Linked DNA regions of Homo sapiens: regions 2, 3, 4 and 5 are each linked to region 1. The links come from fine-mapping of genetic effects on gene expression. A gene starts in region 1. Each other region holds a variant in brackets. All regions are shown on one strand. Distances are between the middles of the regions. Region 1 holds the start of LINC02328 (long intergenic non-protein coding RNA 2328). Region 2 overlaps LINC02328 (long intergenic non-protein coding RNA 2328). Region 3 overlaps LINC02328 (long intergenic non-protein coding RNA 2328). Region 4 has its middle 200 kb from the start of LINC02328. Region 5 overlaps LINC02328 (long intergenic non-protein coding RNA 2328).

Evidence for each region.
Region 2: its variant is fine-mapped to the expression of LINC02328 in whole blood (INTERVAL, PIP 0.98).
Region 3: its variant is fine-mapped to the expression of LINC02328 in T cells (TOPMed, PIP 0.93).
Region 4: its variant is fine-mapped to the expression of LINC02328 in subcutaneous fat (GTEx, PIP above 0.99).
Region 5: its variant is fine-mapped to the expression of LINC02328 in whole blood (TOPMed, PIP above 0.99). The same link has a PIP of 0.9 or more in blood mononuclear cells.

Annotation. Positions count from the first base shown.
Region 1 is chr14:85,931,724-85,936,723 of GRCh38, reverse strand. It overlaps LINC02328 (long intergenic non-protein coding RNA 2328), which reads right to left and starts at 2,046. Exons shown (of 4, transcript NR_110155.1): 1 at 1,863-2,046. RefSeq lists enhancers at 1,932-2,141, 2,512-2,561.
Region 2 is chr14:85,940,525-85,945,524 of GRCh38, reverse strand. All of the region lies in intron 1 of LINC02328 (long intergenic non-protein coding RNA 2328), which reads right to left. Among named protein-coding and RNA genes, the nearest start is that of LINC02328, 8.3 kb to the right of the region's middle. The variant A/G (reference allele first, on the strand shown) is at 2,069.
Region 3 is chr14:85,958,411-85,963,410 of GRCh38, reverse strand. All of the region lies in intron 1 of LINC02328 (long intergenic non-protein coding RNA 2328), which reads right to left. Among named protein-coding and RNA genes, the nearest start is that of LINC02328, 26 kb to the right of the region's middle. The variant C/A (reference allele first, on the strand shown) is at 2,165.
Region 4 is chr14:85,734,508-85,739,507 of GRCh38, reverse strand. No RefSeq gene overlaps it. Among named protein-coding and RNA genes, the nearest start is that of LINC02328, 200 kb to the left of the region's middle. The variant A/C (reference allele first, on the strand shown) is at 3,118.
Region 5 is chr14:86,020,533-86,025,532 of GRCh38, reverse strand. The region is part of intron 1 of LINC02328 (long intergenic non-protein coding RNA 2328); the gene reads right to left. The region is part of intron 4 of LINC02316 (long intergenic non-protein coding RNA 2316); the gene reads left to right. Among named protein-coding and RNA genes, the nearest start is that of LINC02316, 40 kb to the left of the region's middle. The variant C/G (reference allele first, on the strand shown) is at 2,219.

The DNA.
Region 1 (5,000 bases):
AATAAAATACAACTCAATTAAAAAGTAAGCAAAAGTTCTAAACAGATACCACCATATATATGGCAAATAAGTACATGTAAAGATGCTCAACATTGGTTGTCATTAGGTATATAAAAATTAAAATAATAATGAGATAACATTGTACATGTATTAAGAGGGCTAAAAACCAAAATATGCTAATACTAAATACTGGTTAGGATGAGGAGCAACAAGAACTCTCATTCATCACCGGAGAAAATGCAGAATGGTACAACCACTCTGATGGATAACTTAGCAGTTTCTAACAAAGCTAAACATATTTTTACCTTGTAATCCAGCAGCTGGGTTCTTAGATATTTACCTAGATGATTTGAGAAATTTTAACTACAGAAAACTTTCACATGAATGTTTATAGAATTTTATAAAATTATCACCAAAAACTGAAAGCTATCAAGATGTTCTTCAACACAGAAATGAATAAACTCTGGTATATCCATACAATGAAATACTATTCAGAGATAGGAAAGAATGAGCTATCAAGCTGTACAAGGACATAGATGATTCTTAAATGTGTATTGCTAAATGAAAGAAGCCAGCATGAAAGGACTGCTGCATACTGCATGATTATATTACATTCTGGAAAAAGCAAACTTATAGAGAGGGTAAAGATATCATTTGAAAGCAGCCTGGGCAAGATGGCAAGACCCTGGCTCTACAAAAAAAATTAAAAATTAGCTGGGCATGGTGGTGCACACCTGTAGTCCCAGCTACTTGGGAGGCTGAGGCAGGAGGATCCTTTGAGCCCAGGAAGTAAAGGTGGCAGTGAGCCATATATATGGTGCCACTGCACTCCAGACTGGGAAACGAAGCAAGACCCTGTCTCTAAAAATGAAAAAATAAAGAAAATAAAGATATCAGTGGTTTCTAGAGGTTCACAGACACAGATTTGAGTAGGTGAAGCACAAGAGATTGCCTAGAGTGGTGAAACTATTCTGTATGATACTGCAATGGTGGATAGATGATATTATGCATTTATCAAAACCCATAAAAGTCTAGAGCACAAAAACTTAACCGTAATGTATGAAAATTTTTAAAAAATTATTTAGGAGGTTAGGAGATCCCAGATACAAGGTAAACTGTGACTATACAACCATCCAATCTTCAACAAGGCCAACAAAAACAAGCAACAAGGAAAGGACACTCTATTCAATAAATGGTGCTGGGATAACTGGTTAGTATGCAGAAGATTGAAACTGGATCCCTACCTTTCACCAGATACAAAAATTAACTGAGGATGAATTAAAGACTCAAATGTACGCTCTCAAACTATAAAAATCCTAGGAAATATCCTTCTCAACACTGGCCTTGGCAAAGAAAATTTGGCTAAGTCCCCAAAAACAATTGCAGCAAAAACAAAAATTGACAAGTGGGACCTAATTAAAGAGCTGCTGCACAGCAAAAGAAACTACCAATAGAGTAAACAGAAAACCTACAGAATGTGAGAAAATATTTGCAAACTATGCATCCAACAAATGCCTAATATCCAGAATCTGTAAGGAACTTACAACAAGCAAAAAACAGAATACATTAAAAAATGGGCAAAGGACATGTACAGACACTTCTTAAAAGAAGACATACAAGCGGCCAACGAACATGAAAGAATGCTTGTCATCACTAATCATCAGGGAAATGCAAATCAAAACCACAATGCTATATCATCTTAAACCAGTTACAATGGCTATTACTCTACAGTCAAAAAACAACATATGCTGGCGAGTCTAGAGAAAAAGGAACATTTATACACTGTTGGTGAGAATGAAAATTAGTTCAGCCACTATAAAAAGCAGTTTGGAGACTTTTCAGAGAACTTAAAACAGAGGTACCATTCAACTCAGCAGTCCCACTGAGACGAGAAGTCTTCTTCTGATGGAAGGTTTTTCTCAATGGAAGCGTTCGTGTCTCACGGGCTTCAAGGAATGAAGCTGTGGACCACAGCAGCGAGTGTTACAACTTGATTAGAGAAACGGGCGGACCCAAAGAGTGTGCGGCTGCAAGATTTGTTAAAGTGAAAGCAAAAGTAAAGTGAAAGCGAAAGTAAAGCTTCTGCGTGGTGGAAGGGGACCCAGAAGGGTTGCTGTTTCTGGCTTGGGTGTCTTATGCTTATATCGCCTTATGACCCCTCCCCTTTTCCTTTTTCTGTCCTATACAATTAGCTTATTTTCAACCCACTTGTGGGTTGATGGGCCTGATTGGTTAAAAACATCAGGCTGTAGCTAGACCTTAAACTCCCTATATGATTGGTTGAAGTTTCAATCCCTTAGCTTGCAGCTGTGACTCATTTTGGCTTAGGGGAAAGTCCCCTTTGATTGGTTGAAGTTTAAATCCCTTAGCTTGCAGCTGTGACTTATTTGGGTTTAGGGGATAGTCCCCTTAGGGAAGTCCCTATTGACCCAGGAAGTCCAGCCAACTTAGCCACTTAGTCCCTCACCATTACTGGGTATATAACGAAAGGAATTTAGGTCATCATACTGGAAAAAACACATGCTATTGTATGTACATTGCCACACTACTCACAATAGCAAAGACATATGTGATGGTTAATACTGAGTGTCAATTTGACTGGATTGAAGGATACAAAGTATTGATCCTGGGTGTGTCTGTGAGGGTGTTCCCAAAGGAGATTAACATTTGAGTTAGTGGGCTGGGAAAGGCAGACCCACCCTTAATCTGGGTGGCACAATCTAATCAGCTGCCAGGTGGCTAGAATATAAGCAGGCAGAAAAATGGAAAAGAGAGACTGGCCTAGTCTCCCAGCCTACATCTTTCTCTTGTGCTGGATGCTTCCTGCCCTGGAACATCCGACTCCAAGTTCTTCAGTTTTGGAACTCAGACTGGCTCTTCTTACTCTTCAGCCTGCAGACAGCCTATTGTGGAACCTTGTGATTGTGTGAGTTAATACTTAATAAACTCCCCTTTATGTATATATGTGTGTTCCATTAGTTCTTTCCCTCTAGAGAACCCTGATACAGATGTTGGTACCAGAAGTGGTCTTCTAGAGGAACAGAATATTAAGGATGTAGTTCTTTCATTGGTTTTGGAATTTCTGGTGTTGGCTGCTTAATATTAGACGCCAAAAATGCTAAGAACTCTACTTCTAATAGCATGGAGAACACTGATAATCCTTGGCATGAACTGTTCGAGAAATATGCAAAATAAATGCATTTGACACTCCTGATTCATCGCTCCTGAGAGGCAAGGATTTTAGTGACTCTACATGTAATACCTTTGACCATATGTGGAGAACCAAGGAACATAATGAAGCTGGTTGGTTGCTCCTAAGTTCAGTGGAAAAAGTGATGAAAGAAAATAATGAACTCAGGGATTCTATCTCCCGGCCTCAGAAGCAGATACTGAGCCTCAAATCTGCTAAGACTGCCCTGAGTGAGAGTCTTATCTTCCTGTAGAGAAAGAGCTGAAATTGTGGAAAAACAGACACAAACCCTTATCATGTAGGCTGACCTGTAATGAAAGATGCATGCACAGCCTCACCAGGTGTCCACTGTTAAAGTGAGCGCTTTGATTAGAAAAGAATGGGGCCCTGCAACTTGGAATGGGGACGTGTGGGAGGACCCTAATGAAGCTGGGGACACTGAGTTTGTAAACTCTGATGAAACTTTTCGGCCAGAGGAAACAGCTTCCCCATCCCCAGTAGAGACAATATCCCCTCCCTGACCCACACTGCCATCAGCCTTTCCACCTTTGTCTGAGGAGATAAACCCTGTGCTGCCTGAGGCAACAGTGATGGCCTCCCTTGAGGCAGTTTCCAGGCAAGGTAAAGTTGATTATCTTCAGGAGCCACCTCCAACACCCCTGTTTCCTTCTAGACCTATAACTAGACTAAAGTCCAGGCGAGCCTCTAGAGGTGAGGTTGAGAGTGTGACCCATGAGATGTTCTACACCCAAAAAGAATTGCTTGAGTTTAAACAGAAATCTGGAGAACAGGCATGGGAATGGATATTAAGGGTGTGGGATAATGGTTGAAGGAACATAGAGTTGGATCAGGCTGAATTTATTGATTTGGGCCCACTAAGTAGGGATTGTTCATTTAATGTTTCAGCTGGGGGAGTTAAAAAAGGTTCTAATAGTTTATTTGCTTGTTTAGCTAAAATATAGATTAAAAGATGGCCTACTACGAGTGAGCTAGAAATGCCTGATCTCCTTTGGTTTAATGTAGAGGAAGGGATCCAAAGGCTTAGGAAGATTGGGATGGTACAGTGGATTATTCACTTTAGACCTACTCATCCCAGCTGGCAGGGTCCAGAAGATATACCCTTGATCAATGCCTTGGGAAATAGATTTGTGAGGGCAGCACCTACATCTTTGAAGAGACCTGTAATTGCCCTTCTCTGTATGTCAGATCTAACAGTGGGAACCGTAGTCACTCAATACAAAATTTAAATACAATGGGAATAATTGGATCCCGAGGTGGCAGGGACCAAGTGGTGGCACTCAACCATCAAAGGCAAGGTGGGCATAGCTACTGTAATGGACAGCAGAGGCAAAGTGACGATCAGAACAGTCTGATTTGTGTAGAGCTCTGGCATTGGCTAATTAATAATGGTGTTCCTAGAAGTGAAATTAATAGGAAGCCTACTGCATTTTTGCTTAATTTATACAAGCAGAAAACTTCTAGGTCGAATGGACAAAAGACTAATTTGAATTATAAAAACAGAGAATCATGGCCCCTCAATCAATTTCCAGTCTTGAGCCAGTTTACAGACCCAGAACCCCTTAAATGAAGATGAGGCCAGGTCCCCTTGAGAAAGAACCCCACTACATTACTTACAATTTATGCTGTGAATCTTTCTCCCATCCTTCCCCAAAGAGACATCTGGCCTTTTACCAGGGTAATTGTGCATTGGGGAAAGGGAAATGATCAGACATTTTGGGGACTACTGTACACTGGCCTGAGCTGACGTTGATTCCAGGGAACCCAAAACGTCATTGTGGTCCTCCAGTTA
Region 2 (5,000 bases), 8.8 kb before region 1:
AGTTGCAGACATAAAACTGAAGAGACGGGCTGAGGCCAAATTGTTAGGGGTTCAAATGCCCAACAAGGAAGCTGGAGTTGTCTCAAGTCATAGAAAATTATAAAAGCTCAGATAGAGAAATTGCATGGATGGATTTGCATATTTGATGTGTGTTCCATCAGACCAAGTGGGAGGACATCTCACTGAGCCATTCTCAGGATATCTAATAGAGAAAATGGAGCAAATCTATGAGAAAAGAAGGACTTCACATCAAAATAAAATAAAATAAAATGGAAGAGTTACCAATGTGTTCACACATGAGCTCTGAAGATGGGTAAGGATTAAAAGTGGAATTTTGAAAATCCTCCGTGTAGGAGGCCACAGTTGTACCTGGCTTAGGTCTCAGCAGTGGCTCCCTTGTGTGGTGCAGGACTGTGATTTGGCCTCTGGTCTGCCTGAGGTTGTCTCACTGTTTCAGACAATGAGGCAGAGCCTGGGCATGCTGGGCCTGCCTCACTCTTGGGCATCTGTACTTGGTTCCATTTGACATGTTCAGTCTATACACAGCTTAACAAAGTACTTGTTCTAAGTCAAAATGACTCCTACTTCAGGACTTGGAATCTTCGTTTTCCTTCCAATATGGTTTGGCTGTGTCCCCGCCCAAATCTCATCTTGAATTGTAACTCCCACGTGTCATGAGTGGAACCCAGTAGGAGGTGATTGAATTATGGTGGCAGGTCTTTCCTGTGCTGTTCTCATGATAGTGAATGAATCTCACGAGACCTGATGGTTTAAAAACAGGAGTTTCCCTGCACAAGCTCTCTTTTTGCCTCCTGCCATCCATGTAAGACACGACTTGTTCCTTCTTGCCTTCCACCATGACTGTGAGTCCTCCCCAGCCATGTGGAACTGTAAGTCCATTAAACCTCTTTTTCTTTGCAGTTTCAGGTACGTCTTTATAAGCACCATGAAAGCAGACTAATGAGCCTTCCTACTCCCTACTATAGTTAATGCCTTTTCAAACTGCATATATTAGCTCCAGCACATATATTCAAGGATGGCATTCTTCCCCACTTCCCCAATCAGATGACAGACCCCACACCTACCCTCATAGTCCCACAGTTCCCTATACTGTTCTTCCAAAGTACTAATCACAAGTTCTAATGGTATTTGTAAGAGATTATTTGATGAATGCCTACCTCTTCCACTATACTGCAGCTCTCTGAAGGAAGGGCAATATATGTAGTGTTATTAAATGTGCCTCACAAACCTAGTACATTTCCTGGAACCCAGTATGGACTTAATATATATTCATTAAATGACAGAATGATTTTCCCATTGGTGCCATCTCATTTGACACCATAAAATGAGAATTATACCTTACAAGCTGTGACTTCATTGGTATCTCCCTCATGGTTATATTTTTTTAAAAAAAATCAACTTGAGGATTTAATTTAAACATTGCAGCAAACATCCTTTTGGGGATTTTCATAGTTTGGTCATTCATTCACTCATTCATTCCACAAACAATAATTGAGCACAATGGCTTCCTCTCCAGGGCTCTGTTAGTTCTGTCCACTCTCCAATCTCAGCATTCTACATTTTTTTTCAACAAACTAATCCTACCAGCTGAAAATAAGATGCCAGTATGCCAGTCCCTTGTGGTTTTTACTAAAAATTGCCTGCAAAATGAGACACAGTCCTTTCATGATTTTCATTAGAGAGCAAATTGCTTGTGATACCTTTGGCAGAAATTAAATGGATGTATAGAGGCAGTGCCATCTTATTACGCAGTTGAATTTTTGAGAAAAGAATGGGGTTTGTCAGACCCAAAGTTTCGCTGTTGCTTTAAAAAAATGGCATCAATGATCTCTCAAGTTACTGCATGAGGACACCTAGTCTGAGTGTCTAGTGACAGTTTTTACAAAGAATTTTACCCTGTAATGGTTACACCTGCCTTATTATTGTTTCAAGTGGTTGCAAGGAAGTGTTTTCTTCCTCTTATTTCAAAGGAAACAAAAATATTTTAGAGGTTTGGTATTTGGACATTTCTTTTTTCTTCAGTTCAAAATCCTAGCAAAGAGCGATA[A/G]TTTGTGGTGTGTTGAAATGAAATGCTGCAATTGAAAGTTGCTTTTGCAGTTTCCCCAATGTGTCATGCTGATGCTAACCTTTTCATAAGGCAATGCTTTGAGGAACTTTGATTGTTAAACAGTGCACTCTGAGCTGAAAGGAGAATTTTGGAGGAATGATGGGCAAAACTGTTTACATATATTTATCTAGAGCATTTGGTGAGTATAATGAATCATATTGAAGTACAGCACTTGTTTAAAATGTTACATACTGTAACATGGGATATTAGTATTTAGAATTGCTCACATGGTTTATGTATCTATATTGTTTTTATGATTGGCACTCTTCAAGAAAGGCTTGAAGTAGGCTTTGCCTATTCTTTACCAATCACCAGATACTATTGTTTACAATGTACTTTAGTCTACACAAAAATGGACTTTACACTATACTTTAATCTGTAGAAAGATGATCCATCAAGGCAGGAGTTCTTAGCTTTAACAGCAGAATAACAGCAATGTCGGCCCATAAGAATGTCTTTAGCTCACATTTTGCCACACTTTTATTTCATCACCTGATATTCATGTTAGATCCAGTTGACTTGGTCTTGAGAATGAATCAAAGATACGGGTGCTCTGATTTCCTACACTTCAATGTGAGTAATTCTCATTATATGCTTGATCCTGATACAAATGGCCACTCCTGACTATAAAATTTAGGCTTTAGCATATGTTGTCGTTCTACACGTGTCTTAGCACTAAATATGCAATCAAAATTAAATTCTACTTTCTACTAAGTCAGGTATGAGAACATATTTAGACGGACCAAATAATAGATTCAGAAAAATAATTTAACTGGTTGAATGTCAAATGTCATAATTTCAAAAATCTAGAAATTTGAAATTATCTACTTGTTGACTTAATGGGACTCTCATTCAAGTTTCTGCTCCCATAGAAAGACAATTGATGTTTCTGTGAGCCAAAGCTGAGACTATCAAAATTGCATATAATCAAAAGGAAATACTAGAAATAGGAAAATACTTAACAGGAAAAAGAAGAGGTGCCTTTTATTGCTCATTAGTAGACTCCAAATAACTCAGAAAAGAATCAGCGAGGTTAAAAATAGGCTGTTAGAGAGAATTCTCAAAATATATGCGAAGGGAAAAGTAGTACAAAAAAAGACAGAACATTCAAAAATTGTAATAAAAGAAAAACCAAAAACAAGCTAAAAATAAATTGCAGTATAATTTTAAAAGGCATCATATGCATATTATTTGAAGGAAAAGAAAGAGAATGAAGGAATAAGATTTGAAGTAATAATGACCAAGAAATCTAAAACATTAACGGCAAACACTAAGCCACAAATCAAGGACATTCAAAAAACAAAAAGCAGGAAAAATAAATAAATAAATGCACACACACACACACACACACACACACACACACACACACATACACACTCCTCCAAAGCATATAAAATTCAAACTGCAGAAAACTAAAGATAGGAAGAACAACTTGAAAGTAGCCAGATCTAAAACAAAAACAAAAAACTTACCTATAGAGGAACAATTTTAAGGATAAAAGCAGGCTTATCGAAAATCACACAAGCAAGAAGAGGGTAAAGTGAAATACTTAAAATATTTAAAGAAACTACCAAACTAAAATTCTATAATCAGCAAAATTATCCTTGAAGAGTGAAGAAGAAATAAAGAATTTTATTGGCAGCAGAACTTCCTGCATGAAATGTTAAAAGATGTTCTTCAAACAGAAGGAAATGCTATGTCAGAAATGTGTATCTAGAAAAGATAGGAATAAATAAATAAAGATAAAATAAAATATTTTGTTTTACTTTTTCTTAAATGACCAAAAAAGTAACTATTTGTTTAAAGTAATAATAACAATTTATTTGGTGATTCAAGCATATGAATAAAAGAAATGAATGCTAGCAACATCATAAGGAATGGAAAGAAGAATCAAAAATACTTATTAAAAAATAAGAATAATATGAAGTTTAATCTTAGATAACAGGTGCAGTCAAAACTACAAGTCAATAACAGAAATTTAGCTGAGAAATTTCCAAGTATCTGAAAATTATATAATATACTTCTAAATACCATATGGGTCAAATAAAAAGTCTCAAGAGAACATTTACATAGTTTAAAATAAAGGAAAATTAAAATGCAATTATTAAACTTGAGAATGCAGTGAAAATAGTGCTTCAAAATTCATAGAATTAAATGCATATCTTGGAATAGAGGAAATATCTACAATCAATAACCTTTCTACTATAAGAAACCATAGAAATAAGGGCAACTTAACCTAAAACAAGCAGAATAAAAGAATTAATAAAGATTAGAGCAGAAGTAACAGAAATCAAAAGGAGAGAAATAATAGATAAAAATCAAACAAACCAAAATATTTTTCTTTGCAAAGTTCAGTAAAGTTGACAAAATTATAGCCAGGCTAACCAAGATAAAAAAGAGAAGACAGAAATTATCAATATCAGAAATAAAAGAGTCATTACTACTGAACCCATGGACATGAAAAGAATAAAAAAAAGATTATAATGAACAATGTTATGCTAACATATTTGATAACAAAGCTTAAATAGCTAAACCTCCTGAAAGACAAACTATCAAAATTTATACAAAGGAAAATGAGAATTGTCCTGTATTTATTAAATAAATTCAATCAATATTTCATAACTTTAAAAAAAGAAAGCCTGAGAAACAGATGGTTTCAGTTAATGAATTCTACCAAACACTTAGGAAACAAATAATGCCGTTTCTCCACAACAGAAACAGAAGGGCCACTTCCTAACTTATTACATAATATCAGCATTTCCCTCCTACCAAAAGCAGATAAAGACATTAAGAGAAAAGAAAACTACTGACCAATATCCTTTAAGAACAGAAGCAAAATTTCTCAACTAAATAATAACAAATTGAAGAGAAT
Region 3 (5,000 bases), 27 kb before region 1:
CCTAGCACCTTAGTACTCAAATATGCTTCAATTTTCAAAGGTATTTGATCAAACCTGAACAAATGGAGCCCTCAGTCATTTCCCAGTTTCCATCCTTCATTCCATTCATTCTTTCACCCATTATCTATTACATTCTGACTTGGGCTGGAGTCTGGGCTGAGCACTGGGAGAGAGAAATGAAGATGACAAAATCCTTCTCTCCAACAACTTCCATTCTAGGAAGATGGCTTCGTACTCTAGTATTTGCATCACAGCATGTCTGCTATGGCAAGCATGCATACGTGCTGATAGGCAGAGAGGTGGGCTCTTAAGGGCGAGGTACCCTTCCCAAAGAAGAGAATCTTGATTGTAAATGTAAAGGATGCATAAGAAGCATGAAAGTGAAAAGCTCTTGGTCCATTTAGCCATTTTCCTCAAAAAGCTCCATATGGATGTTTATCATACTGATTCATTCATTCATTCATTTACCCAACAAATCCAAACCTTCCTTCAATCATAGAGATGCTTCTGTATGCTAGTCACCATGTTAGGCCTTGTATTAGTTTTCAATTTTTGCTGTAACAAATTGCCATAAACTCAATGTCTTAAAACAACACAACTTTACTTTTTTATGGTTTTGTAGGTTAAAAGCATGACCTGGCTTCACTGGACTAAAATTAAGATGTCAGCTGTGCTGTATTCCTTTTTGTAGGTTACAGGGGAGACCTATTTCCTTGCATTTTCAAGTTCTAGAGGCCACTGACATTCCTTAGCTCAAGATCTCCTTTTTCCGTCTATAATCAAGCTAGCCATGGCAGATTGATTTCTTTTCATTTTGCATCACTCTGATTTCTTCTGGCTCCCTCTTCCACTTTTAAGGACCCAAGTGATGACATTGAGCTCACTTGGATAATTCAAGATAATCTCCCCATCTCAGAACCCTAATGTGATTACCTCAACAAAGCCCAAAGTAAGGTAGCATATTGACAGATTCTGGGGATTAGGAATTGGGCATTTGCAGTGGGTTCATTATTCTACAAACAACTATACTGTCCACGTTTACTCTTGAGATCAACAATTGTACCCGACTGTGACTGTCTCCCCAAATTTCAATTAGCTGTTTCACCATCAAGATAGCAAATAATCTAAATATTACACTGTGCTTCATCTACTCTCTGAGCAAGAAGCTGTTTTGAGAAGTTAATCTCTTTTGTAATTCACATTTTAGATGAGGCAGATGATATTCTGGAAGTTTAATTAACATGCCCAAGGTCACAAGTGATAGGAGCAGAATATTGTTAAAATTCAAAGCTTCTGACTGCAAGTCCATTCATTTCCCAGAGAAAGACAGTTGATCTCATATACTGTATAAATTGAGTTCATTTCAGGTTTAAAAAAAACAAAAAAAAAAGTCTGTTATTTAAAATCAGACTAATTTAAGGAAACACATATAAATCCTAATCACTTTTTTCTTATTTCACTAATAGAGCACCTTCAGACATTCAATGCAAAGACATTGAACAAGAAACCCCGGGATTCAACTCCATGACAGCTAACTCACTTTCAAATGACTGATACTTGGTGATGCACCTGTTCACTTCCACCCTGGGGGAACTCTCCCATGCATGTCTCTATTCTAAATAAATTGCCTTAAGATGGATTTGTTGTAATTTTGCTACATTTCTTCAGCAATCTTCAACAGCTAAGTGGAAGGAGTTATTTTTGCCATTGTTCAAGTTTTGTTTTACCCCACTATTAATAATTTGTATATTTGTAGAGCATCTATACAGAACTCAATTTCTTTAAACATATTACTTATGGTAACAAACAACCAACCAAATAAGAGTGATCTCTTGAGTCTCATTCCAGGGTGACAAAGCTTATAGAGCACCTTCCAAATAGAACACAATCCATATAAGCCCAGCTAGATTGACAGATAATGTCCCTAAGGAGATGGCATGGTGTGATTCAATGAACAAGGAGACAGATTCAGTCACACAGCTAATAAGTAGCAGAGCTCAGGATTCAACCAAAACTCATGTTCTTTCAATTGTACCATGCTTTCTGCTAACACATCACAAACTTTGTCAAATATTAGGAATAAAACTTGCTGATGTTTTAAGCCACCTCAAAATAGATCTAAACCCTACTGGTTCTATTTTACAGTAAAAAAGGATGAAAAAAA[C/A]CAAAAACAAACAAATAGTTCAGCCCCCTATCACAAAGTTAATGTTGTGATCTATGGGGTAAATATTTCTTAAAGATTCAGACACTTTCATCTCCATTAGAGAAATGCTGAAAAAGACATATGCTGAGAATCTCCTGGTCATAAGTGCTTAATGCTAAAGGCAGTCAAGCAATACAGAAGCAAGAAGCCTTAAAAGCTTTTGGAGTCTAAGGTTGTAACCTTTGGGTAAAATGGCGAGGCTGTCAGTCCACTGAAACCCAGCACTTCCCCTCAAGTATCTGTCTTGCCCTTCCTTCCACACTAAGTGCCTACTCGGAGTTCCTCTGGCCATTATATAAAGCTTTTCAGGAAACCTCACTCCAGACAGATGTTTAACCCCAGGCTCTAGGGGGACTATGCTGCCAGTTGCTGGGTCTGTTGATTAATTTTACATGTACACACATGCTAATGTAGCCTGACATTGAGGGGCTCACAGTCAGCCAGCCATGTTAAATAAATAAAGTAGTACAGGCAAATCTGCACTGAAAGTTGTCTGCACACAGATGCATTTCACCCCAAATCTCAAAGGAGAGCTGGTTCTTCTTTTTTATGCAGCCAGCATCAGAGAGGCAACCTGGTCAATATTATCACAAATCGTCCTTGATTCACTTGTATGTAATATACTACCCCATTTTTTAAATAGGCTTGGGTGAAATATGGGATATTTAAATGCAGATGTAAATTGAAGTTCAATGATAGTAAGACAATAGAAGGGCTTCAAACACATTGATTACAATGAGTGACCAACATTACTTAGAAATTCAGCTGCATAATCTGTGGTCTCAGAGCATATTTTGTGAAATTTACCAAATTACAAACGTTAAAGGTGATATGGAATTATTGCTTCAAAATAGTGATGATTTTGAGAAAAACACTTGTGAATAATAATATATCACTTCTAAATATTAATATTACAGATTTTTCTTATGGTATTGGCAGATACACTATTACAGACCAACTCTCACAATGAGAAAAACAAGAAGAGTTAGGGAAAATATTTTTTACAAAATTTGACTGAAGGCATTGCAGAAAAATCAAGACAGCCTGAACTTAAGAGATATAAGTTCTGAAGAAAAGGAAAGCTCAAGTGTTTGCTCAACAACCAGTGTAGCTTTTCCCTTTGGGGCATTTGCTAACCCACAAGTGTGGGGTCTCAATACTGAGAAGCAAAGAAAGCAGTTCTCAAAATTGTTAAGGGTTCAAGGGGACAAAACCTGGAAATCAGGGCTCAACATGGAGGAGGAATCCTGGTAAACACTATCAGTTTCCGTGGAGACCCTGAAGTATTATATCCAAAGAAGAGAGGGAAACCAGCGCCCCCACAAATCAAACTGGATTATGATGATTTGCCTCTACCCTAGCATCTTTCAAGAGGAAAAAGTAAACATCACTATGACAGAGCCTAAAAAAAACACCTTCAAATAAGTAGGTAATTAATAAAAATCAGTTAAATCTTGTTCTTATTAAGAACATTAAAATACTTTCCAGTAATAATAAAAGGAATAGCAATAACTACCTTTCCCTTTTGAGCCTCTCACAGATGCCTAGGTTTTGCGATCTTGGCTATCTCTAAATCTTATACCATATCTGCAAGTCAATCATATTTATGACTGATTACAAAACTGAGGTTCAGGTTCATAGATGTTATGTGACTTATGGATCCACATAGCTAAGTAGACAACTGAGTTAAGATTTAAACTCTGGACTGTTTGACTTCAACAGACACTTTCAGCGGGTGAGGTGGGTGTATATTTTCATGAAATATGTGAAGAGGGGCTTACTTTAGAACAGAAAAGAGAGGAATCTGTAAGGAACTGTGGGATGATTTTTGATGAAAATGATCTCTTGGTGAAAGGCAGTCTTCTTAGAGGTTTTTCCGTCTCTTTTCAATTCACATAATATTTACTGAATGCTTACTATTTGCCAGGCGCTATTCTATATTTGATGACTATAGCAATAAGCAAAATAGACAAAAATCCCTGGCCTGATGCAGATGAGATCCTACTGAAGTGGACAGTTAGCAAGTAAATAAAGATCGAATTTAGGGAACTAGTATTTATAGCCAAGCTGATGTGATAGGGAGAAAAAAAAAAAAAGACAGGAAAGCTATTAGTGACACTGTGTACAGGGCAGGAAAAGTATGGAATTCAGACAATGCCCGTGGGGTTGTGTTTGAAAAAGTAGTGCTGCACACCATTCTTCCACCTGAGCCCTTCCCCATTTGGAAATGAAATATCGGGGGGCAGAGGATCCTTGGTCATACATTTCTCTAAAGATCTGTGATTCTAGGTTGGGCATGGTGGCTCATGCCTGTAATCCCAGCACTTTGGGAGGCCGAGGCGGGCAGATCACCTGAGGTCAGGAGTTCGAGACCAGCCTTGCCAACATGGTGAAACCTCGTCACTACTAAAAATACAAAAATTAGCTGGGCTTAGTGGCAGGCGGCTGTAATCCTAGCTACTCTGGAGGCTGAAGCAGGAGAATCGCTTGAACCTGGAAGGTGGAGTTTGCAGTGAGCTGAGATCGCGCCATTGCACTCCAGCTTGGGCGACAAGAGCGAGACTCCATCTCAAAAACAAAACAAAAAAAGATCTATGATTCTAGATGGTGAATTGAATGTGGACAAAACCATGAGAACTGTGGCATCATATGTTACCTTCTCAACCTGTAAAATTATAAGCTATTTGAAAGTTAATGTGATACAATTAAACTCTATATTAGAATGATGGGGGAGAGAAAAGATAAAAGTATACATGAAAAAAACTTGTCCAAATAATAAAAAGACACCAGTAGCAAC
Region 4 (5,000 bases), 200 kb after region 1:
TACCACTCACTTCTCAGCTATCAAATCTGCTCCTTGTGGCCTTTGTTTTATGTTTACCACAGACCTCCTTATTTGAGATCATTACTTCCAAGTTGGAAATTCATTACTTACAAACTTATATAGTAACACCTCTCTACCCTTCGCACATAGTCTGCAATTTTATTCAAACTGAAATTCCTTGTGTCTGCATCAAACTACCCCATTTTTTGAAATTTCTTCATCTATGAGAAAAATTATTCAGCCCTTAATAAAAATTATGATATTTGACCTGAGGTGGGCCCTGAACATGGCACAGACATCCTGTTGCATGCACTTGGTCAAGTGCTTCACATTCACAAGTAGTTCTTACAAATATGCATATATTTCTTCTAAGTCTCCTCCCCATCACCACATCACAATAGATTACCTAGTTTCTGAATTTACAGAAGAAAAAAGTTATCTCACTCCTTCATTTAAAAGCTTGCTTTTATTCATAGTTCAAAGTACTCCATCCATAGTTCAATGGTTCAAAGACTATCCTATTAATATCACCTTTATTTCCTAATACCTATAACTCATCTTGATTAAAAATAACTTCGATCACACACTCCTTTCTCAGGGAGGTTTCTTTACTGCCTTCCACTGGATCATTCCCCTAAGAATATACAAGTACTACAAAACAAAAATAAAATATTCAATAATACTTTATTGTATGCATTGTATACTGTGTTGTATCCTCTTTGGCTATTGCCCTATCACATTTTCTTTTATCATTCCTCAGCTTATCAAAACAGAGCTCAATACATGGTATCTCTCTTTTTCACTTCTTAAATTGCTGAAAATTTGCTGTGTCTCCTTGAAAACGACCTGATGAAGTCATCAATCATTCCTAATCCTTAAATCTAATGGGAAATATTCCATTGTTATTGCCAGGCCTTTGAGCCCAAGCTAAGCCATCATATCCCCTGTGACCTGCACGTACACATCCAGACGGCCGGTTCCTGCCTTAACTGATAACATTCCACCACAAAAGAAGTGAAAATGGCCTGTTCCTGCCTTAACTGATGACATTATCTTGTGAAATTCCTTCTCCTGGCTCATCCTGGCTCAAAAGCTCCCCTACTGAGCACCTTGTGACTCCCACTCCTGCCCACCAGAGAACAACCCCCCTTTGACCGTAATTTTCCTTTACCTACCCAAATCTTATAAAATGGCCCCACCTCTATCTCCCTTCGCTGACTCTCTTTTCGGACTCAGCCTGCCTGCACCCAGGTGAAATAAACAGCCTTGTTGCTCACACAAAGCCTGTTTGGTGGTCTCTTCAAATTGACGCGAGTGAAATTTGGTGCCATGACTCGGATCGGGGGACCTCCCTTGGGAGATCAATCCCCTGTCCTCCTGCTCTTTGTTCCGTGAGAAAGATCCACCTACGACCTCTGGTCCTCAGACCAACCAGCCCAGGGAACATCTCGCCAATTTTAAATCAGGTAAGCGGTCTCTTTTTACTCTCTTCTCCAACCTCTCTCACTATCCCTCAACCTCTTTCTCCTTTCAATCTTGGCGCCACACTTCAATCTCTCCCTTCTCTTAATTTCAGTTCCTTTCCTTTTCTGGCAGAGATGAAGGAGACACGTTTTATCCGTGGACCCAAAACTCCGGCACCGGTCACGGACTTGGGAAAACAGTCTTCCCTTGGTGTTTAATCACACGGGGACACCTGCCTGATTATTCACCCACGTTTCAGAGGTGTCTGACCACGCCGGAACGCCTGCCTTGGTCTTTCACCCTTAGCGGCAAGTACCACTTTTCTGGGGGCAAGAACCCCCCAACCCCTTATCTCCGTGTCTCTACCCCTTCTCCACTTTTCTGGGGGCAAGAACCCCCAACCCCTTCTTCACCCTTAGCGGCAAGTACCCCTTTTCTGGGGGCAAGAACCCCCAACCCCTTATCTCCGTGTCTCTACCCCTTCTCCACTTTTCTGGGAGGCAAGAACCCCCAGCCCTTCTCTCCGTGTCTCTATTGTCTCTTTTCTCTGGGCTTCCCTCCTTCACTACGGGCAAGCTTCCACCCTCCATTCTCCCTCCATTCTCCCTTCTTCTCCCTTAGCCTGTGTTGTTAAAAACCTAAAACCTCTTCAACTCACACCTGACCTAAAACCTAAATGCCTTATTTTCTTCTGCAATGCTGCTTGACCCCAATACAAACTTGACAGTGGTTCCAAATAGCCAGAAAACAGCACTTTCAATTTTTCCATCCTAAAAGATCTAAATAATTCTTGTCATAAAATGGGCAAACGGTCTGAGGTGCCTGATGTCCAGGCATTCTTTTACACATCGGTCCCTCCCTAGTCTCTGTTCCCAATGCCACTCCTCCCAAATCTTTCGTTTTTCCCTCCCGCCTGTCCCCTCAGTCCCAACCCCAAGTGTCGCTGAGTCTTTCTAATCCTTCTTTTCTACAGACCCATCTGACCTCTCCCCTCCTCTCCAGGCTGAGCTAGGTCCCAATGCTTCCTCAGCCTCCGCTCCTCCATCCTATAATCCTTTTATCAACTCCCCTCCTCACACTCGGTCTGGCTTACAGTTTCATTCGTGACTAGCCCTCCCCCACCTGCCCAGCAATTTGCTCTTAAAAAGGTGGCTGGAGCTAAAGGCATAGTCAAGGTTAATGCTCCTTTTTCTTTATCCCAAATCAGATAGCATTTAGGCTCTTTTTCATCAAATATAAAAACTCAGCCCAGTTCATGGCTCGTTTGGCAGCAACCCTGCCATGCTTTACAGCCCTAGACCCTAAAAGGTCAAAAGGCCATCTTATTCTCAATATACATTTTATTACCCAATCCACTCCCGACATTAAATAAAACTCCAATAATTAAATTCCGGGCCTCAAACCCCACAACAGGACTTAATTAACCTTGCCTTCAAGGTGTACAATAGTAGAGTAGAGGCAGCCAAGTAGCAACATATTTCTGAGTTGCAATTCCTTGCCTCCACTGTGAGACAAACCCCAGCCATGTCTCCAGCACACAAGAACTTCCAAACACCTAAACCGCAGTGGCCAGGTGGTCCTCCAGGCCCGCCTCCCCCAGGAGCTTGCTACAAGTGCCAGAAATCTGGCCACCAGGCCAAGGAATGCCTGCAG[A/C]CCAGGATTCCTCCTAAGCCATGTCCCATCTGTGCGGGAGCCCACTGAAAATCGGACTGTTCAACTCACCTGGCAGCCACTCCTGGAGCCCCTGGAACTCTGGCCCAAGGCTCTCTGACTGACTCCTTCCCAGATCTTCTTAGCTTAGCAGCTGAAGACTGACACTGCCTGATTGCTTCGGAAGCCCCCTAGACCATCACAGACGCCGAGCTTCAGGTAACTCTCACAGTGGAAGGTAAGTCCGTCCCCTTCTTAATCAATACGGAGGCTACCCACTCCACATTACCTTCTTTTCAAGGGCCTGTTTCCCTTGCCTCTATAACTGTTGTGGGTATTGATGGCCAGGCTTCTAAACCTCTTGAAACTCCCCAACTCTGGTGCCAACTTAGACAATACTCTTTTAAGCACTCCTTTTAGTTATCCCCACCTGCCCAGTTCCCTTATTAGGCTGAGACCCTTTAACTAAATTATCTGCTTCCCTGACTATTCCTGGGCTACAGCCACACCTCATTGCTGCCTTTTCCCCCAGTTCAAAGCCTCCTTCACATCCTCCCCTGTATCTCCCCACTTTAACCCACAAGTATAAGACACCTCTACTCCCTCCTTAGTGACCGATCATGCACCCCTTACCATCCCATTAAAACCTAATCACTCTTACCCTGCTCAATGCCAATATCCCATCCCACAGCATACTTTAAAAGGATTAAAGCCTGTTATCACTCACCTGTTACAGCATAGCCTTTTAAAGCCTATAAACTCTCCTTACAATTCCCCCATTTTACCTGTCATAAAAAACAGACAAGGCTTACAGGTTAGTTCAGGATCTGCACCTTATCAACCAAATTGTTTTGCCTATCCACCCTGTGGTGCCAAACCCATATACTCTCCTAACCTCAATACCTCCCTCCACAACCCATTATTCTGTTCTAGATCTCAAACATGCTTTCTTTACTATTCCTTTGCACCCTTCATCCCATCCTCTCTTCGCTTTCACTTGGACTGACCCTGACACCCATTAGGTTCAGCAAATCACCTGGGCTGTACTGCCACAAGGCTTCACAGACAGCCCCCATTACTTCAGTCAAGCCCAAATTTCATCCTCATCTGTTACCTATCTCGGCATAATTCTCATAAAAACACACGTGCTCTCCCTGCTGATAGTGTCTGACTAATCTCCCAAACCTCAATCCCTTACAAAACAACAACTTCTTTCCTTCCTAGGCATGGTTAGCGCGGTCAGAATTCTTACACAAGAGCCAGGACCGCACCCTGTAGCCTTTCTGTCCAAACAACTTGACCTTACTGTTTTAGCCTAGCCCTCATATCTGCATGCAGCGGCTGCCACTGCTTTAATACTTTTAGAGGCCCTAAAAATCACAAACTATGCTCAACTCACTCTCTACATTTCTCATAACTTCCAAAATCTATTTTCTTCCTCATACCTGACGCATATACTTTCTGCTCCCCAACTCCTTCAGCTATACTCACTCTTTGTTGAGTCTCCCACAATTACCATCGTTCCTGGCATGGACTTCAATCTGGCCTCCCACATTATTCTGGATACCACACCTGACCCTCATGACTGTATTTCTCTGATCCACCTGACATTCACTCCATTTCCCCATATTTCCTTCTTTCCTGTTCCTCGCCCTTATCACATTTAGATTATTGATGGCAGTTCCGCCAGGCCTAATCGCCACTCAGCAGCAAAGGCAGGCTATGCTACAGTATCTTCCACATCTGTCATTGAGGTAACCGCTCTGCCCCCCTCCACTACCTCTCAGCAAGCCAAACTAGTTGCCTTAACTCAAGCCCTCACTCTTGCAAAAGGACTATGTATCAATATTTATAGTGACTCTAAATATGCCTTTCATATTCTGCAC
Region 5 (5,000 bases), 89 kb before region 1:
TATTTCTAATTCTAAATCCTTGAGGAATCGCCACACTGTCTTCCACAATGGTTGTACCAGTTTACAGTCCCACCAACAGTGTAAAAGTGTTCCTATTTCTCCACATCCTCTCCAGCACCTGTTGTTTCCTGACTTTTTAATGATCGCCATTCTAACTGGTGTGAAATGGCATTGCACTGTGGTTTTGATTTGCATTTCTCTGATGGCCAGTGATGATGAGCATTTTTTCATGTGTCTGTTGGCTGCATAAATGTCTTCTTTTGAGAAGTGTCTGTTCATATCCTTTGCCCACTTGTTGATGGGGTTTTTTTTTCTTGTAAATTTGTTTGAGTTCTTTGTAGATTCTGGATATTAGCCCTTTGTCAGATGGGTAGGTTGCAAAAATTTTCTCCCATTCTGTAAGTTGCCTGTTCGCTCTGATGGTAGTTTCTTTTGCTGTGCAGAAGCTCTTTAGTTTAATTAGATCCCATTTGTCAATTTTGGCTTTTGTTGCTATTGCTTTTGGTGTTTTAGACATGAAGTCCTTGCCCATGCCTATGTCCTGAATGGTATTGCCTAGGTTTTCTTCTAGGATTTTTATGGTTTTAGATCTAACATTTAAGAAGCCAAAAGAACAAAGCTGGAGGCATCATGTTACCTGACTTCAAACTATACTACAATGCTACAGTAACCAAAACAGCATGGTACTGGTACCAAAACAGAGATATAGACCAATGGAACAGAACAGAGCCCTCAGAAATAATACCACACATCTACAACCATCTGATCTTTGACAAACCTGACAAAAAAAGAAATGGGGAAAGGATTCCCTATTGAATAAATGGTGCTGGGAAAACTGGCTAGCCATATTTAGAAAGCTGAAACTGGATCCCTTCCTTACACCTTATATAAAAATTAATTCAAGACCTATCATTGTTTCTAATTTGCTGTTTAGCTCATTTAAATTAAAAATTTTAGTTGTAGCTATCACTTCTAATATTTTAATTACATAATTTTTTAGATTGCAGTACTTTGATAAATCTATTCACATTGTGTTTTATTTTCTTGAACATTTTCCTCATAGTTATTTTAAAGTTAATAAGTGACAAAGTTAAATGACTGATAATAATCTATATACTTCTGTTGTCTGTATTTTGGCATACTTTTAATCTTTTGAACCTCTCGGTAGGCATGCTGTAATTTTTTTTGTAAATTCTGGGCTGAGTGTATGAAACATTGTAGAGGCTGTAGATATTATGTATTTTTCTCCCTCAAGAGAAAAAAATACATAATGTTCTTTTAGAAGAGCACCTTGACTAAGTCTGTAATTGAAATAATTCATGCCTGAGTGAGGTCTGGCCTAGTCTTGTTCGCATTTATTCTGAGAAGTAACTTTTCAGGAAACTAAACTGAAACCCAGAGATATTTGCCAGGGTCCCTGCTCCTTGGTAGGCCCTACATTTCTAATGCTTCTTTTCCTGAGACCATCAGAAATTTTTCATTAGATTTTTAACCCATTATCTGCTATTCCCTTGGTTTTAAGAAGAAAAGCATTAGGGAACATCAGGCTCATTTCAATGAATTTATCTAATCTATGGTATCTTGTTCTCTCAAGTCATGGCTCCTTGGACATGCTCTGATGCCTTCAAGGAGCTATATTTAAACACATCGTATCCTGAATTCTAAATTTTTTGTGTGAGATTGCAGGTTTAATAAAATCATACAGCATGGTCAGATGCAAAAGTCTCAAAGTTGTTGCTAATTGTGCAGTTCATGTTAGCAGCTTTTAATACTTTTACTTTTTTAACATCACTGCGCTAAACTTACATGGGAAAAAGAAAATAAGAAAAAAAACAGACAAGAGATCTAATACTTGAAAAATACTTAGTATATAGCAAATATTTCAAACACACCAAAGCACTTTGTATTAGTTCTTTTTCATGCTGCTAATAAAGACATACTGGAGAATGGGTGATTCATAAATGATAGAGTTTTAACTGACTCACAGTTCTACATGGCTGACGAGGCCTCACAATCATGATGGAAGGCAAAGGAGAAGCAAAGGCACTTCTTACATGGTGGCAGGCAAGAGAGCTTGTGCCCGGGAACTCCCATGTATAAAACCATCAGATCTCATGAGACTTATTCACTACTACAAGAACAGTATGAGGGAAGCCACCTGCATGATTCAGTTATCTCCACCTGGCCCTGTCCTTGGCACATAGAGATTATTATAATT[C/G]AAGGTGAGGATTGGGTGAAGACACAGCCAAACCACGTCATACTTAAACCCCAGAACTCCACGTAGCATGAGAAAAGGTGGGAGGTATGGATTCTAGGAATTATAGATTTCTCTTCTGTAGGGCTACTATGTTGAGCATAATGAGTGATTCTTTCAGAAAAAAATAAAAGATAATAGTCAAACAAAAAAATTATTGAATCATAGAGGATAAAACAGACCACTAGAGACCATTTATCTCTCATGTTGCAGAAGTTACCTTACACACAAGGCAGAGTGCCTAGCTACTTCATGGAAGAGCTATAGATAGAAGCCATGCTTACAGAATTTTTCTTTAACTCTCTTTTAATGGTTCAAACTGTCCTTCTTGATAGTCATAAACTGAGTGAGGGATGAAGATACCTGCACATTGAAATAAACATTTTTTTTTCCATTTCAATGATAAATTTTAAAAGAAAAAAAAAGGCAGGGGAGAAAAAAATGTTGGCATTAGGGTCCTGACAATTTTCAATTTTTACCTGGCAATGAGGTTGATTTAACCTTCTGCGTGTGGTGCACAGGTTTGCTACGCCCATCCTACGTCTTAGTGCTCCAAGTGAAGCCTTCCATTACACACTAAAAAAATTGATGAGTGTGAAATAAATGGACCCAAACTGTGACTGCATACCGGTGTTACAAAGGAAGCAAGCCTGTCTGAGCAACAAAACCAGAAATTGGCCCAGGGCAGAAAGCAGGGAAGAGCACCCAGTCAAGTGCTAATCAGGTCACCTTCCCTGGCAGGCTCCCACAGATCATCTGTTATAGGCTACTGTCACATGCAAACACGTGTTTATCTGATCACTGAGACAGTGCTGAGGTTTGGCTTACTGCCTCTTGCAGATCTCAGAAGAGTTAGCCTCACTGAAATCTCTGGGTGAGTTTTCAATTGCACATTTTATGTTCTTTGCTAGTTCTGACGTTTCCAAATATTTCTCACCAACTTGTGGCTGAATGCAGGCCATCATGACATGCCCCAGAGGTGCCTAGCTAAGGCATGAATCACATAATGTCTATATTCACATTCTACGAAGTCCTCAGGGGTTGATGTAGTTGTGCATGTGAATTAATGTCCTTATAAAACCTAGCTCAGTATATTATTATTCAAACTTGATATCCAGTCTGTTAATGATTATTGGTCTGCAAGGCAATAAAGAATGTGCTGTTTTATAGATGGAGGCCTTAACACTGCAATGGTGTGTCTTAAATTGTTACCTTTTAACTTAGGATCAAGTTCTTATGGAAATTGAGGGAGCTCTATTGTGTTTTAATCATTAATTGAGCAAACAAATATTTATTGACTACATACAATATGATGGTCACTACACCAAGTTCTGGGATATGACTTTCAATGAGCTCTATTGTGTTTCAATCATTAATTCAGAAAATATTTATTGGCTACAGACAATATGAGTGTCACTATACCAAGTTCTGGGATATGACTTTCAACAAGGCAGATGTGTTGTCATCTACAAGTAGGTCAGAGTTTAATGAAGTAGTGGAAATATCACTAGATTGGCTGTCATAAGACTCGGATTGTACTTTTAAGTACTTCACAAACAGCATGGCACAGATCACTGCTTCTCCATTCATTAAGAGGAAGTAACTACCTGAAGATAAAGAGATGAGCCTCATTTCTCCCAAGAAAAACAAATAAGAATTGGGCCTTTGTATAAATTTCCATTTTTCTTTTTACTACCTGCATAACCTTGAACATATTACCTCACCCTAATTTTTTTAATCAGGAAAATGTGAATGATGATAATAGTCCTTATTTGGTTGGATTATTGAGGATATTAGATGCTCTAGATATATCACCTAGACTATTGTGCTTGGCATACAGTGTTCGGTAAGTGTTTGCTTTTATTATTCTGAAACTAAAGTAGTTGTTACATCTCTAGCAATTTAATTCAACACACATTAATTGAAGCCCCACAATGCTTGTGGCATGTATGAAATAAGACTCACTTCCTTTTCTCATTAGGATATTCACTATCTGGGGTGAAGGGCAGTACTTCCAGCCAAATAATTAAATCAGCATTATATTGTGCTTTCAGAAACAGAGTTATATGCAAAGTTATGTTTGTGCAAAGATGTGTAAAAAATCAAGTCTACCTAGATAAGCAATTATACAAACATTATGAAAGATGCAATCACTAAAACTCTAACAGATGAATAATTCATCAGAGAAGAATCTAAGATACATTCCAAGCCATCTCCATTACACTTTCTCTCTCACACTCTCCCACACATACAAACATGTGCACACACATAAAGTAACACTATAAACATTAGATAACATTCAGAATTTATGTCTTAACTCTACCCTCTTTCCATTAATTTCTCCTTGCCAGGGAATATAGATTACAGGGAAACACATGGTTATAATCAGACTTAGGTTTGATTTCTGGATCCTTTTATGTAAGTCTACTATCCCCCAATCCTAATTAATCTAGAGAATCTGTGTGCCCTCTTGCTCAGTAGGTATAAGTAATCATGCAACATACTTCTACAAATTTCTGTGCATTGAGCAGTCTAGATGAAATGAAAGTAATTTTCCAAGATCGTCTTTCAGGAGATCCAGATTTCATGCTTATCTGATTTCTTACCTATATATGTTTGGAAAGATACATAACTCATCTGCAAGCTGGAAAATGAGAGAAGCCAGTAGCGTGGCACAACCTATCAGTCTTCAAGCAGTAGGATAGAATATTGAATAATATCTTCATTGCTGCATTGTTTGTAGAAT